2 linked regions of the Homo sapiens genome follow. The protein of the gene in region 2 interacts with the protein of the main gene of each other region in a pairwise test. Each region holds a gene or a part of one and is shown on either strand. Other genes may lie near its edges.

Region 1 (2,570 bases), on a different chromosome or scaffold from region 2:
TCCGAGACCCAGACATAGCCCCAAGACCTGACTGGCCAGGTGGGTAAGGCTGCTGACCCACCATGTCCTCTTTCCTTTGGCCTCTTGTCCCGCTGCCCATGCTTTCCTGGACCGGATAGGCCTCTCTGTCAGTGCAGATGTCCCGTAGGGTCCGGGCCCTGTTTGGAGCCATGAACTTCTGGGCCATCATCATGTACAACCTTGTGAGCCTGAACAGCCTCAAATTCACAGAGCTGGTTGCCCGGCGCCTGCTACTCACAGGTGAGGGACAGGGGTGTGGGGATACAGAAGGTGCCAGGCATCAGCCTCAAGGACCGTGACCTTCCAAAATGCCTCCTATCTCCCTCATCACCCCTGGGACTCAGAAGGGAGGGCCCATCAAGCGGGGAGAGGGGTGGGAAGACAAAAGTCGCTGAGGATGCAGTGCTGCTCCTGAGCATCTATGACTCCCTCCCCACACAGGGTTCCCCCAGACCACGCTGTCCATCCTGTTTGTCACCTACTGTGGCGTCCAGCTGGTAAAGGAGCGTGAGCGAACCTTGGCACTGGAGGAGGAGCAGAAGCAGGACAAAGAGAAGCCGGAGTAGGAGGGAGCGGGTAGAGGGATGGGCTCTGCTCAGCTATTCTTGGGCCAGATGGGGCCTGACCGATAGAATAAAAGACTTTTCTACAACAGCTTGGCTGTTCCCTGACCCTTCTTCCCACAGTCCCCTGGCTCCACGTCCATAGTGGCTGAGGAGCTGGAGGCTCTAGGCCTCAGGCAGGGGAGGGTTCCCACCCATAGGGTGGAGGGGACACCAGATGGAGAGCAGAGACCATCGACCTTGGCAGCCCAACAGCAGAACACTGAAGCCCCAAGTCTTCAACACACCTGCTCACTGACTCTTGGAGCACTGATGCAGACCCTGAGCTGCTTGCTCAGAAGGCACTTTATTCTTCCTAAAGAAGGAGACATATCTGCACTGTACACTGCACTTGATGGGGATGCTCCCATCGGACAGACGAGAAGGCTGAGTCCTGTGGGGAACTTTGCCAGCACACTCAGCTAGGCTGGGGCAGGGCCAGCACACGGCCTGGGATACCGCCCTGTGGTTCTGGTTCATGGATCAAGACAACCTAGGGGGATATGGCAACACTGGAGAAGCCTCTAGTTTCTCACCCTTGCCCAAAAGTCCAGGACTAAGCAGCACTTCCCTTTCCTTGGCTGACGCAGCCCCTGAGGCACCATAACTGGATCCAGGTAGACTCTGGCCTCTCCTAGCCTCTTTTCTGGAGCCCCCACAAGGCCAGGCCAGTGAGGGTCGCAGGATGGGAGGGGTGCTTAGTTCAGTCTGCCTGAGCTGGTCACATCTTAGTCAGGCACAGCACATTGAGCCGCACTGGTAGGAAGGTGGCACCTGCTGCATAGGCGATCTCCCGCAGGACACCCTCCCATTTCTTCTCCTCCTCGTTATACCTGGGGATGAGAGAGAGTGGGGACAAGGATGGAGAGCTTGGTCAGCTGAGTCCAGAGTGGAACGCAGCAGAGAGGGGTGGCTGAGGGCACTTGGCCCATCTCTAGGGAGATCTGCTCCTGAAAATCCCCAGGCTCTGGGAAAGGAGACCCCCCACAAGACCCACCCCAAGGAACACCCACCCCACACTCCAGGAAGGGTCTTTCTCCCCAGGAAAGATCACCTCTCAAGGGGTGTTCCCATATTCCTCAAAGTTCCCCTCCAGGAAGGTCTACACTGCCCACACCACCCCATCAATGTCCTCTCCTTGAGAATTTCCATGCTCCATTTCTACTAAGTCTCACGTCTCAGCCTCCGGCAGCACTGCTCCCCAGGGGCTGCCTGCAGCAGTGCAGATGGCTGCAGGTTCAGGAAGGAGATGCCCCAGAGGCTAAAGTTTCCTTCTCCCACCCCCACAAAGGACCAGCCATAGAGAGCAATGGTTCTGAAAGGCCAGGGCTCCAACTGTTTCCCAGCCCTAGTGGCAGCCCTCCCTCCAGACCAAGCACCCGGAAGGCAGGAGAGAAGAAAATCCGGCTGCTATTTGGGCCCTGTTTCTGTGAGTCTATGACCTAAGCTTGGGTCTGCTCCCATCTGCAACACTGTTGCTGCTCCACAGTGGGGCATGGTGTCATCTGTGCAAGCCCAGACTTTCCCAACAAACTGGTGAGAAACGGCCAAGCAGGGTATGTTGGCTATTCCTCCCTACAGGACTCCCTAGAAGAGGGATCCGCTTTGCCCCCAGAGGAGCTTGCCCAGTGCCTTGGTACCCCACCATGGTGCTATGGGGTGTCAGCCTTGCTCATGATGCCCCCTTGCCTCCCCAGGGTGGGACTCACCTCCAGATGTCATTGAGCTCTGTGGGAACCAGCTCTCCAGACTCCGTCTCCAGTGTGGCAAAGCCACCAATGGCATAGAGGGTACCCACCAGGCTGACCAGGCTGAGTGAGCTACGCTCCTGTGGGAAGGCCTCGAAGGGTGCCCACCTGGGGGTGTGTGAGAAGGTGCATCATTGGGATGCCTCGGCAAGCCCAGTGACTGTCCCTGCCACCCAGCACCCACAGCTCCAACTGCAAC
Region 2 (3,370 bases):
AGCCCCAGAGGGGCCAACAACAGGAAAGACCAGAGTCGTGGTCAGTAGTGCACATGCTTAACAGGTCTTTGGTGCTTGGGTAGCAGCATCTCTTATGTACAAAGGCTTCTGAAGCCAGCAAAGCTGGGAAAGTCATCTCCTGCACAGTCGCGGCCTGACTCCTCTCCTGGTGCTGGCCATCGGCTACACAGGGGTGCAAAGCACAAGAAGTCAGTCTAAACTGCAGTGAAAACACAAAGATTTTAGAAAGGGTTTCCTGAAGATAGATAGATAGATAGATAGTTAAACCTTGGAAGGTTACCTTCTCTTCCCAGTTCTACTGAGGAACATCAGAAACTCAGCCCATAAGCCCTACCCAGCATGGTAGGTCTTTCTCATAGATGAGAAACTCCTAGGTTTTCTCTCCAGATATGAGTTGAGTAGTTAGTTGAGTAAAAGGAGGGGGCAAAGGTTCTGAAGGCCCAGAGAGCTGCCCACCTCACAAGCCCCTGGGCTCCAGAACCAGCCAGTTCTCAGTGACCATCTGCACATCCTGGCCACTCAGAGGCTCCCGCAGCCTCACCTTCACCTCCAGCTTCCCCCCGGTGGGCTTCCTTCCATCCAGGACCTGTGAGGACCACAGAGAGGGAAATGGTAACTAAGGGGACAGAGATGGGGAGCAGGCAGGTCCCTACATTCCCAGGAAAGAAGTGAGAGGAGCTAAGATGTCCTGTGGCATGAACACAGGAATCTCCATTCATGAAAACCCTACCCTCCCAGTATTTGGAGGAGGAGGTGGTGGTGGTTTTAGGTGAGTCTTATTAAAAAAGTAATAAATAAATCCAGACAAGCATCCTAGAGCTCTGTTCATTTTCTCCTCAATCCCCACGGCAACTTCTGGAAGAAACATTGGCTTGAAGAAGCAGCCTTCCACTGACCCAAACCCTCACTTCACAGATGGCCAAGAGAGAGAAGCAGATGACTCTATGTGGCAGAGTCAGCACTGGAACCCCAAACCCAGGGTTCCTTCCCATTCACCACGCTACTCCCTCTTTTGGGCAGAAGATGAGGCAGTCAATTAGGGCACAAAGCAGTACAATAGGCCCAAGAAGTCCAACCACCCTCAGTGGCTCCAATAGAGACCAGGGCCCGCATAAGAACAACTTCCCCAGGCAGGCAGTAGGGCCAGGTGTGCTACAGTGGGAAGAGCCCCAGCCTACATAGGTTATCAGTAAGGAGCTGGTCGTAGCTCTGCCAAGGACACACCATATGAGCTTACAGAACCCCCTTTCCTCTCGGACCTGAGTTTCCTCATTTGTCAGAGGCAAGGTCGTATAGTCCTTGCCTGTGGAATCCATTGAGTTCATGGAAACAAGGAGGCTGCCTTCTCCTGGGTCCCTCTGTGAGATTTCTCAGACCTTCTGAACCTCTCCATCTGTGAAATGAGGATTCCACCTACTCTAAGCACACTTGTGGAGAATTTCAAATTAAGTAATGAGCACGAAAACCTACAACAAGGTGTGGCATTCAGTGCGTATTGGCTCTTGTCGTACCAACCCCTTTGGCTTGCCCACACCCCAGCCCCTACCTCCACAATTTCTCTGATCTCACACTCATTCTCCAGCCGCTCCAGTTTCAGGTGTGCTGTGCCAACCAGCTTGTCGCTTCTGAAGAAGGACCTGGGGAGTCAAGAGGCAGCAGAGGATTGGACTGGGCAGGGAAGGCAGGAATGTGCTGGCTGAGCCCATGCAGGGGCAGCAGTGACAAACGCTCTTCCCTCCTCCCGGCCCGTGTGGCAGCATGACCGATAGGAGCCTCACCCTTTGTGGAAGATCTCAAACTTGATGCCTTTGCTCTGGATCACCCTCTTGAAGCCCCGGTGGTTTCGGTTGATGTTTAGTTTGAAGAGTTGATCAAATTCTGGCAAAGGGGGAGAAAGCAAGGAGGGGCTTGGCTCTCGGGATTTCCTGAGGAAGTGGAAATGGAGGCCCAGGGCTGGCTGCCTTCCCCCAATCTCTCCACCTGCATTTTGGGGTACTGCCTCCAAAGGGTGGTAGAGCATCGCGGTCCTGGCCTTGGAAGTGAGTTTTTGTACTCTTTTTAGTCATAGATTGTAACAAAGTAGGAAAGACTTGGAATTGGGATACAGAATTCCTGTGTTCATATCCCATTTCTACCACTTCCTTGCCATGAGGCCCCAGGCAAGTCCCTGTACCTCTCTGCGTGTTTCTCCAACTACAGAAGAAGCATGTTAACAGCACCTTTATCTCCCAAGTGGGGTGGATCAAGTAAGGGCATAGATGGGAACCCACTCTGGAAACACCAGTGCTGCCCACACACTCTGAGGGAGGAGAAAGAGGCCCACGTGTGGCCCTCACCTGGAGAGTTTGTGTTCTTCACCACAGCTGTTTTGCTTTTTTGAGCCTGGTCCTAAGCAGTGAGGAGGGAGAAGTCAGGACAGCGTATAAACAAAGAGGCACACAGGGCAGGCACTGCAGCCACACCTCCCAGGGATGGGAAGAAAGTGAGCACAGGGTCCTGGAATGCAAGGCGGGTTTCAGAGGATCCTACTTCTACCTGAACCTCACCGAGTTAGGGTAGTGAAACTCAAACCGCACAAAAGCATCCAGGTCATCGGGAGTCACCCCTGGGAAGGAGAAAAGGGAGTCAAGTCAGAGGGAGTGGCCAGGAGCCTAGCACTTGGAGTGTCCGGGCAAGAGCCTCCTGGAGTAGGGGCGGCCCTAGGGTTACCTGGAGGGGCTGGGAGGTTCATTCCCCGGACAATGATCAGATGCATTTCTGTGCTGTTGAGTTCTGAGAAGATCCTAGAGCCAAGCGGGAAGGAGAAAATGCTCAAAAGTGAAGGACAGTAGTGGAACAAGGTCCCTTCGTCCAGGGCCTGTCTGCCCAGCTGGGTGGTGACGGGAGGGAAGGCAGAGCTGGTATGCAGACCTTGATCTCTGACTTCTGGTCCAGAGCTCTTTCCACAGCACCCAGACAGCTGTGCGCTCTCCACTAGCATGCACCCTGTCGTCCTCAGCAGCCCCAGTGCCCACAGCGGGGCCAGGCTTGGGAAGCCTCACTAAAGGGGTAGCAGTCTCTGGCCTGGGCTCCCAGCCTCCTGCCCCTCCCTGCCTGGAGCCCCTGTTTCCCTAGGCCTTGGTACCTCACAGTCTGGAATGTCTTCAACTCAAAGTGGTGGGTGGGAGGGTCGAGGCCCTGAGCCTGGGCCAGCTGCAGGATCTCCAGCTGTTTCTTGCGGTCCTGAGCAAGCTTCTCAAATCTGACAGGGATGGGTATGTCAGCATGATGGTGGATTTTCTGCTCCCCACCCTATGAGCCCAGCCCCAGCCCTTGCACTTACCGGGTGGTCTCAGCCACGTTGCCCTGG

What was found.
Region 1: the proteins of CC2D1B (region 2) and KLHL40 interact in a two-hybrid assay, tested with the Homo sapiens proteins (one large-scale study listed by BioGRID).

What each region holds. Positions count from the first base shown.
Region 1 is NC_000003.12:42,690,768-42,693,337, reverse strand, and holds the end of KLHL40 (kelch-like protein 40), read right to left. Parts: intron 2,480-2,570; coding exon 2,333-2,479; intron 1,457-2,332; coding exon 1,345-1,456; 3' UTR 794-1,344; downstream 1-793. Other genes in the region: HHATL (protein-cysteine N-palmitoyltransferase HHAT-like protein), read left to right, coding at 120-261, 463-587. UniProt on the Homo sapiens protein: Substrate-specific adapter of a BCR (BTB-CUL3-RBX1) E3 ubiquitin ligase complex that acts as a key regulator of skeletal muscle development.
Region 2 is NC_000001.11:52,353,041-52,356,410, forward strand, and holds part of CC2D1B (coiled-coil and C2 domain-containing protein 1B), read right to left. Parts: coding exon 3,344-3,370; intron 3,263-3,343; coding exon 3,146-3,262; intron 2,805-3,145; coding exon 2,731-2,804; intron 2,627-2,730; coding exon 2,568-2,626; intron 2,410-2,567; coding exon 2,358-2,409; intron 1,900-2,357; coding exon 1,800-1,899; intron 1,659-1,799; coding exon 1,568-1,658; intron 608-1,567; coding exon 479-607; 3' UTR 478-478; exon of another isoform or gene 184-477; 3' UTR 1-183. UniProt on the Homo sapiens protein: Transcription factor that binds specifically to the DRE (dual repressor element) and represses HTR1A gene transcription in neuronal cells.